3 linked regions of the Homo sapiens genome follow. The protein of the gene in region 1 purifies or fractionates together with the protein of each later gene. This does not show direct contact. Each region holds a gene or a part of one and is shown on either strand. Other genes may lie near its edges.

What was found.
Region 2: the proteins of CD93 (region 1) and CNTNAP1 purify together in Homo sapiens (affinity purification with mass spectrometry; 2 studies listed by BioGRID and IntAct, with this or other methods). This does not show direct contact.
Region 3: the proteins of CD93 (region 1) and CLDND1 purify together in Homo sapiens (affinity purification with mass spectrometry; 2 studies listed by BioGRID and IntAct, with this or other methods). This does not show direct contact.

Annotation. Positions count from the first base shown.
Region 1 is NC_000020.11:23,077,921-23,082,409, forward strand, and holds the end of CD93 (complement component C1q receptor precursor), read right to left. Parts: 3' UTR 1,440-4,489; downstream 1-1,439. UniProt on the Homo sapiens protein: Cell surface receptor that plays a role in various physiological processes including inflammation, phagocytosis, and cell adhesion.
Region 2 is NC_000017.11:42,691,555-42,699,953, reverse strand, and holds part of CNTNAP1 (contactin-associated protein 1 precursor), read right to left. Parts: intron 8,149-8,399; coding exon 7,963-8,148; intron 7,456-7,962; coding exon 7,234-7,455; intron 6,658-7,233; coding exon 6,418-6,657; intron 4,434-6,417; coding exon 4,080-4,433; intron 3,930-4,079; coding exon 3,802-3,929; intron 2,681-3,801; coding exon 2,587-2,680; intron 2,401-2,586; coding exon 2,155-2,400; intron 2,052-2,154; coding exon 2,004-2,051; intron 1,337-2,003; coding exon 1,044-1,336; 3' UTR 1-1,043. UniProt on the Homo sapiens protein: Required, with CNTNAP2, for radial and longitudinal organization of myelinated axons. Plays a role in the formation of functional distinct domains critical for saltatory conduction of nerve impulses in myelinated nerve fibers.
Region 3 is NC_000003.12:98,514,983-98,521,301, reverse strand, and holds the end of CLDND1 (claudin domain-containing protein 1), read left to right. Parts: coding exon 1-169; intron 170-2,306; coding exon 2,307-2,417; intron 2,418-4,112; coding exon 4,113-4,250; intron 4,251-4,422; coding exon 4,423-4,643; 3' UTR 4,644-5,819; downstream 5,820-6,319. UniProt on the Homo sapiens protein: Plays a role in negatively regulating the permeability of cells to small molecules.

The sequences.
Region 1 (4,489 bases):
TTCTTCACTTTTTCACTGTTGAGCTGTTCATAATTTCCTCTGAAAAGGGAGAGTTAGGAGGCATTCAGAGGATCTGAAGGGTAAACCCATTAGTCATTCTGTTTCTAAGCACCTGTAATGTCAAATATAATTCAGGGAAAGGCTGACTCCGACTTCTCTGGTTTTCAAGTTTATCATCTCTGCTCTCTGTATCTCCTCTTGCTGAATATACACAAGAGTCAGCTGAGAACTTGATAGGCTCACTCAATGCATGTTCAATCCCACAGAAGGTACATAGTACATGTCTGAGTCTCTCATTGTAATCTGCATTTTGTCTGATGATAGCAACACAAATGTACTCTGCATTGTGCAATAGATATGTGTGCAAATTAATTTTTCTTGGCAAATTATTTGTTTGCGAATGATTTACCTAGCATTTAAGAAATTTTAGTGAGATAGCAAAAGTCACCAAAAAATGTAACCATCACAAGTTGGTGTTTTCTTTCATAGGCTTTTCCTAAATTGAGAAACACTGGCCTCAGGTGTTCCAGTACGACACAGAAGGATGTTAGAACTGTGTGTGCTTGTGGGTGTGTGTCTTGTGGGTGTGTGTTGTGTGTGTTTGTGGATGCATATCTCTGTGTCATGCATGTGTGTGTTTATGTGTGTGGGTGTGTGTGTTGGGGGAACAGCCATGGTTGTTCATATCGAGGAATAATTTCCAAGTGTATGTTGTTAATGAATAGACTTCTAACAGGATCAGCTGCATTTAACCCTAAATAATGGATATTTATTGCAAGTGTCCTGTACCATTAGCATAACAGAGCAGAACCCTTTGTTCTTCTTAAGTCCTGTGCCTTTGCCACAGCCTTTTGCACAATCTTAAAAGCAGGCTGACTCAGAATTGACCACCATCTGCTGTTCCTGACTTGGAATCACCATGAGATTTGTGCAGCCAAACAACCAGCGATCTGATCTGCCTGTCCAATTAGTTAAATAAACTGAAAGGGCTTTGCTGACAAAGTAGTGATAAATGCTCCAATGATAATTATAGAACAGTGTTTTCACATCGCATCCATTGGACATGTTTAATTCTGCGCCAGGCATCACCCATGTAATTTACAAGATGCAGAGAATTAAAGAGTGATGAGGGGGCCATGGATGAGTGGACTCAGCTGCCATGGACACTGGGCGCAGTGCAGCCCAGCCCTCTGTATTCCATGTCCCCAAGGGCAGCACGCTGAGGGGCAGGGTACACATTTGCTGAGGTAATGAAGGAAGGCAGAGCCCAGCGCCCCCTGTCGCCTCCAGCAGGTGCAGGTGCAGAAACTCAGCCACAAGGTACCTTCTTTTTAGCAACTCTTTGAAAGGGGAGATGGATAAATGTAATGACCTTGAAAGCAAGTTCTGCCAGGTATTTCGAGTTGTCGTGAAATATATTAAAACAAGTTCACAATCAATGTGTTTAAGAGTTTATTAGGATAGGCACATAACAGAAAGCTCAAAGGACAACAAAGCTGCACCTTCCTAAAGGCTGACCCTCAAAGCACCATTTTGTTAGAACTCAGAGGAGAAGCTCGATCTCTGAGCCTTCCCTCCTCACAGTTTGGGAAACATGCACAGGATGAAGGTAAATCCTGCATAGAAATCTTGTAATTCCAGAATTAGTCAAACAAATTTGAAATACACACATTTAAAAATACTTACATTCTCATTTAGCATTCATGAAGTGATTACTGACATTTACAATTACATCTGACATCACAGAGCAAGCCTTTGCAGGGATCTAATTCAAGCTTAAGCCAAATCTATGCAAAGAACTTCAGCTCAGAGGAATAGTGGGCAAAATCTGCTGAAAAGAACTGCTTGCCACCTTGCAGATAAGAGCAACAGCACAATAAAGGGATTCCAGAGCTTCTACCTAAAATAGAAGGGCATTATCTACAAGAACAGACCAAAACACAATTTATTTTTAAACAAGCCCTTCAGTGAGTATTTGTCTCAGGAATCTAGTATGAAAATAGTGTCTTTGATTAGTGAATATATGGAGAATTCGGATTATCATCTCTATTTTTAGTTGAGAAAATGCACAAACCATATAGATTTAAACCATGGGTTTTGCAGCCGAAGTAGAGACAGATGTTTTCTGGGATCATATCTCAGATTCCCAAGCTAAAGCTATTGTTCAAGGTGATGGAAATATGTAGGGGGCATTAAACCATTTTGCAGCTGCTAGAAAGCTGTGTTTTCCTGTTTTCCTGATTTAGACAATGGAGAAGCTAAGAAGAGAAATAATAGGAAAGGCTTTCCTATGTTAGTTTTAAAAAGACTGTGTTATTTTTAATTCAATTTTTTTTTGTCAAATCTCATCTCTGTTCTCCTAGTTTTCACAGAAATATTTACAGGAATAAAGGTTGAAACAAAAGTACCTAATGATCATCTCCATCCATCGAAAGATTGCTCAGGGATAAGACACTCAAACAAGGGCTTGTGATGAGGATGGAAAAGACAAAGCAACTTGAAGAGAAAAAAAAATTCTTTTAAACTCAGTTCATCCTGCAAAATGGACATAACACATGCATATAAAGGTTTGACTTTTTAATTCCACTTTTTTGCCTGATCGCAGGGAAGATGGCATGTGGCTGGCCCTTCCTGAAGCCTTGCTCCTCCACCACTGGCTAACAGACAGGCCTCCAGGTGGCCTTGCAAGGCCGACAGTGACCGCAGCCCACTTCCCCACATCCTTAATCAGAGCCTCATGCAGTTCATCCCCACATTACCCAAACATAACGTCGTAGTGCTACACGTAGATGTGTTGCATCATGATGCTATGGCAATGACGATGACGCTTAGGTGTGTGGGCCACCGAAGGCAGAGACCAGATGTGGTTGGTCTTGCCTGGAAGCCAAGCTGTTGAGCAGGGGTGGAGTCCCTCTACAGAGGATGCTCACCAAGTTCTAATGCATTGTCGATAACTGTCCTGCCCTGGTTTTTCTGCATTCCTCAGATTATCTGTGGGAATTGTCCTCCTGCATCCTTTCTCAAATGACAAAGAAGAAAGAAAGAGCAGTGATGGCACCTGAAATTCAGGAATGAGTAGGCATGGCGAGCTGGGTGTGTGAGATGTTCTCTCTTTACATTGTCTGCTTTGAGATGTGGGATGAGGGGAGGGAGAGAGTTGGTCCTGAATATATTCAGTTTTTTCCAAGAGTCTCCCAGAATTATTGACCTATTTGGACAACAAATCTTCATTGTCTTGGTGTCCATCTCCAAGTGAAAACTTCCCCCGTCCCCATGGCCCTGGCTTGTTCTGCTGCTGAACAGGTCACCTGGGCAGAAACACTGTGTCTAGCGAGAAGTTAGCAGGTGGCAGGGTGCACCTCTCCCCATACTGTGACCCTTGGATTCCCCACTGTGCCACGCCCGAGCAAGCTGGGGCCCCTCAGGACAAGGACGATTTGTTAATGGCCTCTTGGCCGGTGGGCATTTGTTTACCCACTACTGTAGCCCCAAGATCCCCCAAACAAGAATTTCCATGCTTCAAAGTAACAGCAAAAATAAACAGGAGAATAAAGCACGTGTTTGAGCCCAGTGGTTTCCATCAGATGCACAACCTGAGCTGTCTGGTTGGGTTGCTGGCTCTCCCCCCGTGGTGGGAGTGGTGTGCAAGAGAAAGCACCACCCAGCAGGAGAGGGACCCAGCCTGCCAGGGAAGGTTTTGAGGAACTGGATTCTTTATCACCCATTTCTCCCCTTGTGGGTTCCACAGAGGGGTTCCATGACCTCCCTGTTGTTGAGAACAGGGCTGCATTCAGAGAACAGACGATGGGCCTGGGCTGTGAGAGCAATCAGAACACTGTGAAAATAGGAGGGCTCGTTGGATCCCAGGAATCATACACAGACTGCGTTGGGGCTGTGGGAAGCCAAGGACAGAAATGTCTCCTTCACCCCAAATGATAAGGGCAAGGATTTTCAAGGCCCAGAGGGAGAAATGTTGCATTTGCATTTATTTAAGTGCTGATGTTGGTCAGCAGCGCATCCAGCCATGTCTTTAGAATCCTCTGAATGGCCAGACAGATGGCTGCTCTCCACACCACAGACTGCCCAGCTTCACACATCACCTAGAGTCTCGTGGCCAAGGAAGTTTTGCCAAATGGACACAGCCTTTGTCTCCCTTAAGTGTTAAACACCAGAGTTCCAACTGAAAACTGGAGACCATGAGATGACTTTAAAAAGAAGTTCCAAATGCCCCATCGAGCCGCACAAAACCTCCATCTTTCCTTTCACTTCCCCTGCCCCTTTAGTTTTCTATTAAAAACAATCTGAACCATAGCATCTATATTTCAAAACTGGCAAGAGTATTAACCCTGCACCTTGTGGCCCTTCAACCACTCCAGAGTGTCACCTCAGAGACCGATGCATTGCTAAGGCAAAACCAGAAACACCCTTTCTCTGAGGCTTTGGGGCCTTGGAGGGAGACACATTTCCTCTGTCTGTTCTCCTGCACAGT
Region 2 (8,399 bases), on another chromosome or scaffold:
CTGAGAGCACAGCAGGCTCAACCCTGCTTCAGAGTGGAGGCCGGACCAGGCTGGTGGGTGACCAGCAGGACTCACGACACTTCCAACACAGGAAAGGCAAACTACAGACTGTGGGCACAGCACAGCACAGGACAGCACAGCCAATTGAGCTTTTCTTTTATATATAAACAAATAATTTAAAAATTCGAATAATATATAGAGTTTCTCTAGAGAGACACTTTGCAACAAAAAATATATATAAAGAATATGACCTCCTGGGTAAATGAAGCAGCATCTCTGAGCGGAGGAAAGAGGGTTCCTCATGCACTGGAGGGGGCGAAGCCTTTGGGCAGGCACAAAGGCCATTGCATATCTTGGAAAAGGTTGGAGGAGTAGAGGGCTGGCTAGTCAGGGTATCTGCATTATTTTCTCTACGTTGCAGGTTTTTTATGGCTTTGGCTAAAGCAAGTGAAGCAGCGGAGGTACTAAGGTGCTAAACTGAGGCCTCTTGGTCTCTGTGTACAAAACAAAAGGAGGGGGGCAGGGGACAGCCATCAAGCCCTCTTGAGCCTCCAGCTGAGTGGAAGCAAATGGAAGATCTTCAGGGCAGGGGGGAGGCTGGGGGATAGGGTTTAGCAGCCTCCTCCCCCCATACCCTCTGCAGCCCTGCACTCCCACACATCTGTCCCTGCTGATAGTGTCTATTGGAAGGGAGGCAGTTAATCTCCCCTACACTCTGTTGTTAATCCCTGACAGCAGCTGGAACAGAGATGGCAGAAAGGACCTATGTCAACCCCATGAGGCTTCTCCTTTGGGGCAGATAAACAGCCAGGAGCCTGGGGAAACAGGGATGAGAAGGGCATTGGTTTAGGCAGTGAGGCTCGGCCACTCCCTTGGGTCCCATCTGTAGCTCTGCCCACCAAACTTGATGGGGGGGGGATGGGGGAATATCCTCTGGATGAGCAGAGCCAGCTAAGAGGAGCCAAATGTCCCTGATAGGATGGGGGAGAGGCAGGACTGGGGGAATGTCAGGAGCTGGAATTGGTCCCAGAAGCCCTTCTGACTCATTCAGACCTGGACTCCTCCAGGATCTGGGGTAGGTTCTGATCCCGGGGGCCAGGGGCTGGGGCTGGAGTTGGGGCTGGGGCTGGGGCTGAGGCTGGAGCTTGGTTGGGAGCTGCTGTAGGGGTGGGGACCTGGGCAGGGCCTGAAGTGGGTAGGGGAGGTTTGCTGCCAGGATGGTACTCGTGGGCAGCCTTGGGCTCATTGGTATGGTAGGAGCCCTTATAGCGATGATTTTGCAGATAGAAGAGCACCAACATTCCCACCAGCCCCAGCAGCAGAAAGGCCACCAAAACTGAAAAGAAGAAAAGGGACAATTCAGATCTTTGGGATCTCACCTGTATACACACACACACACACACACACACACACACACACGCACTCTTTGAGATTTCACCTGTATACATACACACACTTTGGGATTTCACCTGCACACACACACACACACACACACACACACACACACATTTACTTTTGGCCAAAAGCATAATGTATGACCCTCAGTTAGCTGTTCGACCACACTAAACTCATCTCAAGTGTCTGGCAGGTTTGAATTCCTGGCTTACCCCCTGCCACCTTCTGTTTCTAATATTCTCTTTCCACATCCCTGGTAGTTACCCCAATTTCTTATCTCTCTAGGTGTTACTGTATCCCCATTTTCCCATCCCTTAGCTATAGTCTCATTTTAATATTTTATTTAAAAATCTGTAGCATCCTCAAACATCTAAAAATCTCTGCCCAGTTATATGTCACCTTCAGCATAGCCTGTCTCATCCTCAAACATCTAAAAATCTCTGCCCAGTTATATGGCACCTTCAGCATAGCCTGTCTCATCATCCTTTGTGCCATTGTGCATCTAGTGCCTTTGCCATCCTGCAGCCTTGGGGATCAGGGGCAGGGAAAGGATGCTGACAGTCAGAGGGTAGTCTTGGGAGGTCAGCTTAGTGATCAGTGCTACTCACAGCCTAAAAGTATGGCAACCCATCCTTCATCATGGTAGTAGGGGAAGTCTGGAGAGGAGAAAGCACCAGTTAGGAGATGCCTCCTCCATGTTAAGAATCATTCCCTTCCGTGTCATCCCTCCCTTCTGTCCTCTGTGTCCTGGGAATGTACCTGGGGGCAGATACCAGGGATCAAGCTCAGGTGGCACCTCTGAAACAAGACGTGGCATAGCTCCGCAATTAGATTCGGACAGTTCTCCCTGAACTCGAAGGGCCTCAGCTAGCTCAGCAGTCATGGGTCGAGGGGTTCGGAAGTGGGTCTTGAGGGGAGCCACGTTGTTGAATCGAACACCAGACAGGCAGCCTGAGAAACCTGGGGTGTTGTAGCGCTGGATCTCCGGGTCAATGACTCCTGTCTCTGAGAGAGAGGCAGGCCCAGAAAGAGGGACTTGGACCCAAAGGCCCTGCCACTCTCACTGTCCACAGGTTTCCCACTCATCCTTCCCACTGCCCTCAGCCATTCCCAGGGCCTTCACTTTCCTTGAGGATCCAGGAACATATGCCACAGCTCCTTGCCTAAAACGCGTCCGCACCCGCAGCTTACCCATCACACGCCCTAAATACAAGGCCTTGGGTGAGTCCAACTGGCTGTCCACCAACAGCGAGAACTTCTGCTCTGTCAGTGGGAAGTAGTCCACCTGAGGTGGGGAGGGGGAGGGGGAGGGCGATGAGGGAGCGGGGACCAGAAGCAGATGCCTGTGGGCTGGACTGGAACTGTGTGGACCCTGGGAATATACTTGGGGGCAGATACTGGAGATCTCTCATTCTGTCCAAACTGGCGGTGCCAGCTGGGTGAGTCCTAGCTCAATCTGAAGTGGGCAACCCCTGGGCCTAGATGTAGGATTTGGTATATATATTTTTATTATTATTATTTTATTTTATTTATTAAATATTTTTCTTTGTGAAGATGAGGTCTTGCTATGTTGCTCAGGTTGGTCTCAAACTCCTGGCCTCAAGCAGTCCTCCCACTTCAGCCTCCCAAAGTGTTGGGATTACAGGTGTGAGCCGCTGCACCTGGCCTATATATTTTTTAAAACCCTGGTTTTAAGCCCCATCTTTGCAGCTTACCAGCGGTTTGACTTTGGGTAAACCACTTTATTTTTTTGAGATGGAGTCTCACTCTGTCGCCTAGGCCTGGAGTGCAGTGGCACGATCTCAGCTCACTGCAACCTCCACCTCCCAGGTTCAAGCAATTTTCCTGCCTCACCCTCCTGAGTAGCTGAAACCGCTTTACTTTCTGAGGCTCTTTACTGATTTGTAAAACACTTAAATAAGAATGCCTATTGTCTGGCTGGGCGCGGTGGCTCACGCTTATAATCCCAGCACTTTGGGAGGCTGAGGTAGGCGGATCATCTGAGGTCGGGTGTTCGAGACCAGCCTGACCAACATGGAGAACTCCTGTCTCTACTAAAAATACAAAATTAGCTGGGCGTTGTGGCGCATGCCTGTAATCTCAGCTGCTCGGGAGGCTGAGGCAGAAGAATTGCTTGAACCCGGGAGGCAGAGGTTGCAGTGAGCTGAGATCACACCATTGCACTCCAGCCTGGGCAACAAGAGCAAAATTCCATCTCAAAAAAAAAAAAAAAATGCCTATTGTCCCCTTGGAGCTATTGTGAGGGTTACATGAGGTGACACACGTGAAAATCCTCTATACATTCAAATGTGATCTACAAATATTAAGTATTTGATGTTTTCCTGGATGCCACAACGGAGACCATGAGGTTATGATCTGAACTGGCTCACCTCCCTCTATGCATACCTGGATGAAGAGGTTCCGGTAAACACGGGTGATATTGATGCTATGGGGCTGGCCATCGGTCACTGGTCGAGTGGTTAGCTGGTACACGTAGGGACTGGTGCCCAGCTGATATCGCAGCTGAAGGGTCCCTGTGGGGTGGGGAGAAGAAATTTGGGGTCTCAGGCCCCATGACTCCTATCTTCTAACAGCACGTGGGTCCTTGTATTTGTGAATCAATAGGAGAATTAGGGGCACCGGGGTGAAGCTGGAGTGGGGTGAGAGAGCCCGGGAGAGCTTACCATCATCCTTGATGAGCACAGCCATGTAGTCACGAACAAAGGAACTGACGTAGAGCAGGACAGCAGGGGCGGAGCTGGTGCTGAAGCTGAAGGAGACCTCCTCTCCCGTAACGTTGTAGACAGGCCCACGGTAACCGGGCACAGGCCGACCAGGCCGGGGGTAGTCGGGCAGGCGGTACCCGGGGCCATGGTAGCCAGGCACATAGCCCGGAGTATCATAGCCCGGGATGTAGCCAGGCTCATAGCCTGGCACTGGCCGGCTCAGCATGTGGGAGAACTCCCTGGCTGCAGAGCGCAGCGCTGACTGTAGGTTATAGCGCATCCAGGTGCCCGGCTCAAAGAAACCACCAATATCTGCAGGTAGAAGCAGGGAGGTTAGGGCCCCCACACTGCTCACTCCCCAATTCAGAGGTTTTATGTCATCCATACACACATCCTGAGACTTACTTCAGTTTCTGCCACCCTCACAACCCTCCATTTACTTTTAGGTCCCCTTGAGCCCCTCTGTCACAGAACAGAATCTTACAGCCATGGGAAACTGGAGATCATCTGATCCAACCCCTGCATTTTACAAATGGGGAAACAGGCTCAGAGATGAGTAGTGACTTGCTTAAAGACACGCAGTAAGGCCAGGCACAGTGGCTCACACCTGTAATCCCAGCACTTTGGGAGGCCAAGGCAGGCAGATCATCTTGAGGTCAGGAGTTCGAGAACAGCCTGGCCAACATGGCAAAACCCCATCTCTACTAAAAATACAAAACTTAGCTAGGTGTGGTAGTGCATGCCTGTAATCCCAGCTACTATAGGAAAGCCAAGGCAGGAGAATTGCTTGAGCCCAGGGGGCAGAGGTTGCAGTGAGCCAAGATCATGCCACTGCACTCCAGCCTGGGTGATGGGGATATCCTGACCCCATGTAGTATATGTGCCACTACTCACACTTCCAAACCACCACCAGAAATCTGTTGGTCCCTAAGTCTTGTATCTCCCTAGTCCCCCACACTCCTCCCACCAGTAACCCACCTGCTCATATATCCTCCCTATAGGCCAGCCTTAGGGAGGATGCAGTCTTGGCATGTGTGTAGGATCTTGCTATGGGGAATGTCAAGGCTCACCTTAACCAAGAACTGGGTCATTGACATGTTTTAGGAATGCAGCAATCATCAAATACATTGACAAGGGAGTTCGCCTGTGTTACCATGGTGATGGTGGGAAGATGGAGAAGCGATTTGCTTTTTTTTTTTTTGTAGACACAGTCCTTGCTGTGCCCCCCAGGCTGGAGTGCAGTGGCACGATCATAGCTCACTGCAGCCTTGACCTCCTAGGTGCAAGTGATCCTCCCACCTCAGCCTCCCGAGTAGCTAGGCCTAAGTGTGCACCACCATGCCCAGCTAATTAAAAAATTTTGCCAGGCGCTGTGGCTCACGTCTGTAATCCCAGCACTTTGGGAGGCCAAGGTGGGTGGATCACCTGCGGTCAGAAGTTCGTGACCAGCCTGGCAAGCGTGGTGAAACCCCATCTCTACTAAAAATACAAAAATTAGCCGGGTGTGGTGGCACACACTTGTAATCCCAGCTACTTGGAAGGCTGAGGCAGGAGAATCGCTTCAGCCCGGGAGGTGGAGGTTGCAGTGAGCCGAGATCGAGTCATTACACTCCAGCCTGGGCAACAAGAGTGAAACTCAGTCTCAAAAAAAAAAAAGAAAAAAGAAATTATTTTGGCCAGACGCGGTGGCTCACGCCTGTAATCCCAGCACTTTGGGAGTCTGAGGCAGGCAGATCACAAGGTCAAGAGTTCGAGACCAGCCTGGCCAATGTGGTGAAACCCCATCTCCACTAAAAATACAAAAATTAGCCAGGCATGGTGGTGCACATCTGTAGTCCTAGCTACTCGGGAGGCTGAGGCAAAAGAATCGCTTGAACCAGGCGGAGGTTGCAGTGAGCCGAGATCGTGCCACTGTACTCTAGCCTGGGTGACAGAGCGAGATTCCATCTCATAAAAAAAAAAAGAATTTTTTTTGTAGAGACAGGGTCTTGCCATGTTGCCCAGGCTGGTCTCGAACTCCTAGCCTCAAGCAATCCTCCCACCTTGGGCTCCCAAAGCATACTTGGTGATTTTGAGATATTTTTGCACCAGCTATCTGTACCATCCCTTCCTTGTCCATGCCTTTGGAGTCACCCATGATCTTCAACTGCCTAACTCCCCAAACTCAGAGCTCAGGAATCCAGGGACAACTCTAATTTTCCATGATATGGGCTTTACATGCTATTTCCTTCCCTGCCCTCCCTACATCCCATTACACCCTATGGCTCCCTGTTGCCCCATAACCAGCAGCACTTACCGTGGTTGCAGTATGGCCCATCAAAAGCCGTGAGGTCACAGTCACACGTGTAGTAGCTATAGCGCTCCACGCAGCGGCCTCCATGGAAACAGGGGAGCCGAGGGTGGGCACAGTGGCCTGTGCAGTTGGGTGAGGTACCCTCAGAGGCATTGGCACGGCCCTCCAGGTTCAGAGTCACTCCGTTCAGACGCATGGCCCTCAAGCAACCCACAAAGGGGCGTCTCTTAAGCTCTGCAGATCCTGGGAAGGGTAGGCAACAGGTCAAGAAATGGAGGCAGGGCCAGGCGCGGTGGCTCACGCCTGTAATCCCAGCACTTTGGGAGGCCGAGGCGGGCGAATCACGAGCTCAGGAGATCGAGACCATCCTGGCTAACATGATGAAACCCCGTCTCTACTAAAAAATACAAAAAAAATTAGCTGGGCACGGTGGCGGGCGCCTGTAGTCCCAGCTACTCGGGAGGCTGAGGCAGGAGAACTGCTTGAACCCAGGAGGCGGAGCTTGCAGTGGGCCGAGATCGTGCCACTGCACTCCAGCCTGGGTGACAGAGCGAGACTCCGTCTCAAAAAAAAAAAAAAAAGAAAAGAAATGGAGGCAGAGCCAGAGACAGGATGAAGTATTGTAGTTGGAAAGGGAGCCAAGAGGGCTGGAAGAATAGAATAGGATACAAAGGCCTGGAGGGACAAGTGAGACACTGGCTTGCTCTGAAGCAGAGGGGACTGGCACCTAAGACAGGAGGCTCCTGGAAACAAGGCGAGTGGCCTTGGAGGATGGGGAGGTAAAGGAGGCTTCAGACTTGCCTCTGGGTTGCTGCTTACCCACATAGAGGGGCTGGTCATACTCCATCCAGATGTAGGTCTGCAGTGGCATAGGCCGCAGAACCCAGGGCCGGTGATCCACTCGGAGCCGGGCCTGCTTCACGTTGATTTCAGCCCGGACCAGGTGCCACTCGTCATCATTGAACTCAAAGTCGTCTGAGTGTACTGTGAGGTTCTCATCCCCATTCCCCACATCAAAGGCGAAGACCACATCCCGGGATGCTGGACAGTGTGATGCAGGGTAGGGGAGAAAAGGACTCAGACCTACAAGACCCTTCATAGATCCTTGCCCAATATAACCTCTTTCCCTCACCTCTTTGGAGCTTCTTGAATATCCCTCCAATTTGTCTGTAGCTTGCATTGAAACTTACCAGCTGCTTAAAAACCTCATACCCTTTGTCTCTCCCCACATCACAGATCCCTGAAGCCAGCTTCCCAGCCTCACTTCCCAGGCTAGAAGCATGGCTAATCAGCGGTGAGAGGGACTCGAAGGTCCAGCTTCCTTATGGCACAAGGAAGGGGCTTAAGGCCAAGAGAGGCCAAGTGAATGCCTAGGGTCACCCAGCCAGCCGTCAAGACCGAGTGAGGGCTAGAACATAGGGTATCTCAACCCTTCCCATGCTGCCTGTCAAAAGGGCATCTGCCCTTGGCTCCAACCCCAGCCTACCCCTGTCTCCCCAGACAGCACTTTCATCTACCCCGAGGCCCTCCCACAGTCTGCCTGCTCACTGTTGAGTTCCACCCGCACATAAGGTCGGCGCCACTGGCAGTAAGGGCCCCCCATATTCTCTAGGAAGACCCCCGAGGGAGCAGAGGTCCTGAAGTAGAAGGAGACATCCAGGCTGTGGTTGGCACGGATTGGGGGGAAGCGTAGTGCAGCCCCGGTGTGGAAGGAAATGGTGTTCCAGGAATTTCCTAGAAAAGCAGATGGAGGAAGGTCTTGTCAGGGAGATTGGAGGGTGGAGGAGGAAGAGAACCTGGGGTTGGGGGCAGGGAAGGTTGGGCAAAGGGGGAGGGTTTGAGGTGACGGAGGGGAGACTAAGGAGTGGAATGAAAGAGGAGCCAGGTGCAGAGGGGTAATGAGATCGCATCACAGCAGGAGCTGGGGGTCGGGCACCCCAGCTAGAGACCACCAGTGACATGCGGCCTAGATTTTGGAAACTGGA
Region 3 (6,319 bases), on another chromosome or scaffold:
AATTCCAGTGATTTGAATAAAAGCATCTGGGATGAATTCATTAGTGATGAGGCAGATGAAAAGACTTATAATGATGCACTTTTTCGATACAATGGCACAGTGGGATTGTGGAGACGGTGTATCACCATACCCAAAAACATGCATTGGTATAGCCCACCAGAAAGGACAGGTATTTCTCTTATTTTAACTTCTGTCTTCTTCACCTGGTTAATAATAGACAAAACGACGTAATGATTGCCCAATTACATGTAAGCAGGTTTGTTGGTTCTCTCTCTCCTTAAAGAAATAAATCGTGTATCTTCTCTTTCTACTGCCTTCTCTCCCCAACTTCTTTGCATTACCATGGTACTCATCAATATTGGTTGGATGAGGAACTTTTCTTATCTTGGGAAAGCCTTAATGGCTTTTTTTTTTCTTATTTACTCACTCATTAAAATACTTTTCATTACTCTAACACATGTTATAAAGAAATAGTTGGAAAAGTACATCGAAAGACTTTTAAAAATATTTGGTAACTAGTAAAAGGACTACCATCGAAAATCAACTCAAAAAATTGTCCTTTTATGGGTTAGCTGTATTATAATACATATCTATCATTTGCCCCTGTGTCTTAGAGGATATAATTTGACCAGCTCTACATTTAATCTGTGTAATTATGAGACTGTTTTACAACAATCTTGATGCAGAGTTGGTAGGTTAAGAAATTTGTATTACAGAAGTTAAAAAAAAAAAACCAAAAACTAGATTTTTAGGTTTATTTTACAGGCATTCTTATTTAACACTTAAAGATTTTGATTTCCAGTTATTAAAATGGTAGCTTTAGAACTCTTTGTAAGGAACAACTTTACAGTTTATTTATGACTACTTCTGTTGGCCCCTTAGTGGGGAAGCATTGTATTCAAATCATAGCAGAACAGGCTTGAGTTATGATATATCAAAAGGATGATAATATGTCACTGTATCTGGAAAAAAAGATAATTTGGAAGGAAAGGAGAGAAAGTTGGTTAAAATTCATTGTAAAATGTTCAGTTTGACTTATGAGGTTACAGGAGCACTTGATATTGAAATTGGAGTTGGAATTGGAGTGTTACCATTTAGTCATTCATTAAACAAATAATTTATTGCATGTCTCCATGTTCCAGGGCCTCTTAGCTGGGAGAACATCAGGAAAGAACAAAATCCTTACTCCTGGGGAGCTAGCATTCTAATAAAGGATGACAGGCAGTGAACAGAATATAACAGTATAAACAGAATAAATAATTATTCAGTATGTTAAAAGATGACATGTGCTATGGCAAAATAGAACACAAAAGGGATTTGGAAATATGTGGGAAAAGGAATATTGGTGGCCATAGGTTATGATTTTCAATAGGATACTTAAAGTAGGTCTCATTGAGAAGACACCACTTGAGTAAAGAATGTAGTTAAAGACTAGACAAAAGAGTTGGCCATATGGGTAAATGGGGAGGAAGTCATTTAGGTTGGAAAGGACATCTACTGCAAAGGCTCTATGGCGGGAGCATGCCTGAAATATTCAAGGACCAGTAAGGAAGCCACTGGGCTGGAATGGAGGGAGAGACGGGAAGTTGGGTATGCTGTTAAAGACCTACTTTGGGAGTGGGACTGGGGCAAATCCTGGAGGACTCTAGGCAGAATGAGAACTTTGGTGTTGACTCCAGATACAGTGCTGAGCCCTGATCTGGTCACCCTGGCTGTTGTGAGAACAGAGGCAGCAGACAAAGGTGGAAACTAGAAGACTATGGTTAGGAGGTTATAGAAGTAATTCAGGTTAAGTGATGATTATGACTCACACCAGAATGGTAGCACTGAGCAGCAGCTGGATTCTGGACATAGTTTGAAGGAAGAATTCCTGGGATTTCCTGATGGAGTGTAAATGTACAAGAATTACTCTAAAGTTTCTGGTCTGAGGAACTGGAAGTGTGGATTTGGCATTCCCTGAGATGGGAATATGGTTGATAAAGCACGGTTGCATGAGAAGATCAACATTCCTATTTATTTCAGTCTTTGTTCCCTCCCCTTCTTCCTAGGCTTTCTACATAGCTATTCTGCCATTCATTTTACTGCTTCCACTTTATTTTTCTTCCTTGTGCCTATGTCTTCAGCCTGCCACTGAGAACCAGTGGCATCCATTGGACATCTATGAAACCTGTGTGTCAGTCAGGGCCAGAGAAGTTGCTGACCCCTCTGGAAACATCCTTTACTGTTTTACTTCAGAGAATAATTACTGAAAGAGATTTTTGTTAAATGTTTATAATTAAAACAACAGGCAATTGTTCTTGTTCCAGAGTCATTTGATGTGGTCACAAAATGTGTGAGTTTCACACTAACTGAGCAGTTCATGGAGAAATTTGTTGATCCCGGAAACCACAATAGCGGGATTGATCTCCTTAGGACCTGTGAGTACTTTGATTTCACCAGGACAGTTGGGGGAACAAAGATAATTTTATTTGTCTCTTTTTGGACTATGTTTTTGGAATAAGATGAGTTAGTAGATTGTGCCAACGTGAAATAAAATCTCTAACAGTATCCAGTGAACTCTATTCTGTTGATATTTTAGAAGGTAGATACATGCTTACCAAATTTCAAATGATTTGAAGTTGACAGGGCCAACTACTTCATTGGATGATGGGATCTAGACCTTCAAAAGATGTTATTAATGGGCCCATTTAGTAAAAGGAAATTTAGTTGAGATAACTTATACATTCCTATATTTGAATTAAACACTTTCCACTGCTTGAGTTCAGGTAAGTATATGTGAAAAAAGTTTACTGCAAGCTCTAAATGAGTCAGTGAGTTGTCAGGCCTGTCAAAAGTGTTTATCCAGTCTTAGGTGATAGTAACAAAAGGGTAGATGTCAAAAAAGATGAAAGTATTTATTAGGAACAACCTATTCCCTGATGGTCAGGCAGCCCATGAAATACTGTCTTCAGATTTGAGCCTCAGTTTTCAGGGCTATAGGGACTTGCCCAGAAGAATGACCATGTTGTAAGAGAAAAGGTTGAATAAGAGGTAGGTATTCAGTTTTATAAAGAGAATGTGTAGCAAGCAGTTTATTACTAGGAGAGTTTGAAAGAAAGTAAGTTAGAAAAACACATAAGAAGTTCCAGAAAGCAAAACCAGCACCAAAAGGTGTAAAGTTTAGTCAAGATTGATATGAATGCATTTCTAATAATGAATATTATTGGAAAATGGAATGGCATGTTTTGTGAGGTCATCAGGTTTTCTTCCCATGTTGATGAGAGATTTATGATAATTAAAACTACCTTTAGATTCTCTGCTTTGTGCTTTATATATATTCTTCAACAGCCCTATAAGACAGGTCATTTATAATTACCATTAATTTACTTGTTGTTACTGCCTTTAGATCATATAAAGACCTAGATATTGTTGGTAGGTAGAGTCAGACTGATTTTTGTATCAAATCCTGGCTCTACCACTTACTGTGTTATTTTTACAAGTTATTTATGACTCTTGCCTCAGTTTCCTTAATTACAAAATGGAATTAATAATAATACAGCTGTAGCTATGGGGGATTGGATTCAGGACCCCCTGCTAATTCCAAGGTTGCTAAAGTACCTTATATAAAATGGCATAATATTAGCATATAACCTACACAATCCTCCTGTATACTTTAAATCATCTTTAGATTGCTTATAATACCCAATACAATATAAATGCTATGTAAATAGTTGTTATACTATATATTTGTAAATTTGTATCATTTTTTTTTCTGAATATTTTTAACCCTTGGTTAGTTGAATCTGCGGATGTGAAACCTGCAGATATGGAGGGCTGACTGTACCTACTTTCTAGGGTTGTTGGGAGGATTAATACAGAAAATGTGTAGACAAACATAGCATGGAACATAGTGAACCCTCAGTAATTGCTACTACCTGTTAGTGTCCTTTTACTTTTATCAGGACAAGAGTAGCATCCTTTTGAATAATGTGCTTTAGAAAAGAGGCCTCAATGTTAAAATACTTTCACACTTTTTGAGAAAAGATCTAATTAGAATATGAAAGAAATTGCCATTGCGGGGAAAATGGTCTGAAATCACGGTAACATTTCTTTTCTCTCTTTTTAAAAATCAGATCTTTGGCGTTGCCAGTTCCTTTTACCTTTTGTGAGTTTAGGTTTGATGTGCTTTGGGGCTTTGATCGGACTTTGTGCTTGCATTTGCCGAAGCTTATATCCCACCATTGCCACGGGCATTCTCCATCTCCTTGCAGGTAGGTTTTGTCATCATACTTACCTTTTAGCTTCTTCCTGTCTCTTTAGGGACCAAAGAGTTATAAATCTGAAATGTTCACGTATTAACTGCCCTGTCACATTGCCTGAAAAGCTCTTTACTGTGCTTTTATCCAGCCATGTTTTGTTTTGTTTTCTAAATTTTCCCCCAAGGTCTGTGTACACTGGGCTCAGTAAGTTGTTATGTTGCTGGAATTGAACTACTCCACCAGAAACTAGAGCTCCCTGACAATGTATCCGGTGAATTTGGATGGTCCTTCTGCCTGGCTTGTGTCTCTGCTCCCTTACAGTTCATGGCTTCTGCTCTCTTCATCTGGGCTGCTCACACCAACCGGAAAGAGTACACCTTAATGAAGGCATATCGTGTGGCATGAGCAAGAAACTGCCTGCTTTACAATTGCCATTTTTATTTTTTTAAAATAATACTGATATTTTCCCCACCTCTCAATTGTTTTTAATTTTTATTTGTGGATATACCATTTTATTATGAAAATCTATTTTATTTATACACATTCACCACTAAATACACACTTAATACCACTAAAATTTATGTGGTTTACTTTAAGCGATGCCATCTTTCAAATAAACTAATCTAGGTCTAGACAGAAAGAAATGGATAGAGACTTGACACAAATTTATGAAAGAAAATTGGGAGTAGGAATGTGACCGAAAACAAGTTGTGCTAATGTCTGTTAGACTTTTCAGTAAAACTAAAGTAACTGTATCTGTTCAACTAAAAACTCTATATTAGTTTCTTTGGGAAACCTCTCATCGTCAAAACTTTATGTTCACTTTGCTGTTGTAGATAGCCAGTCAACCAGCAGTATTAGTGCTGTTTTCAAAGATTTAAGCTCTATAAAATTGGGAAATTATCTAAGATCATTTTCCCTAAGCATTGACACATAGCTTCATCTGAGGTGAGATATGGCAGCTGTTTGTATCTGCACTGTGTCTGTCTACAAAAAGTGAAAAATACAGTGTTTACTTGAAATTTTAACTTTGTAACTGCAAGAATTCCAGTTCAGCCGGGCGAGGATTAGTATTATTTTTAACTCTCCGTAAGATTTTCAGTACCACCAAATTGTTTTGGATTTTTTTTCTTTCCTCTTCACATACCAGGGTTATTAAAAGTGTGCTTTCTTTTTACATTATATTACAGTTACAAGGTAAAATTCCTCAACTGCTATTTATTTATTCCAGCCCAGTACTATAAAGAACGTTTCACCATAATGACCCTCCAGAGCTGGGAAACCTACCACAAGATCTAAAGTTCTGGCTGTCCATTAACCTCCAACTATGGTCTTTATTTCTTGTGGTAATATGATGTGCCTTTCCTTGCCTAAATCCCTTCCTGGTGTGTATCAACATTATTTAATGTCTTCTAATTCAGTCATTTTTTTATAAGTATGTCTATAAACATTGAACTTTAAAAAACTTATTTATTTATTCCACTACTGTAGCAATTGACAGATTAAAAAAATGTAACTTCATAATTTCTTACCATAACCTCAATGTCTTTTTTAAAAAATAAAATTAAAAATGAAAAGAGACTCAATTGTATATAGAGTGTCTGAATTGATTTAAATCTCAACACTTTAGGATAAAGAAGTGGAGGCAATCTCTGTGGTTGTCTGTGCAAAGTGCATCTTGCTGTACAGGGCTGTCGTTACATCCTGTGTTTGGGTCTCTTGTTTGATCTTCTGGGAAATGTAGGAACCCCTTCCCCCTATTAGAAATAAGAAAATCTTTATCTTTTATTTTTCAGAATTTTAAACCATGTTCTCAAAAGTAGTTTTGTTATCTCTACATGTCATACTTAATGTGGCTAGTTTTCAGTAAAGTCATTTAGTGGCTGTGGATGTTTGTGTTCTATAGTAAATAACCAAGTCAGCTTCTGACTTAGAACAAAGTCAGCATTACTCTGTAGCCAATTATTGCCTGTGAAATGACTGGTTACTCAGGTTTCTATCTAATCTTAATTCTTGAAGATTCATTACCCTTCAGCGCCTTCTGTGGAAGGTGGAAAAGAGAAAAGCTAAATGAACAAACA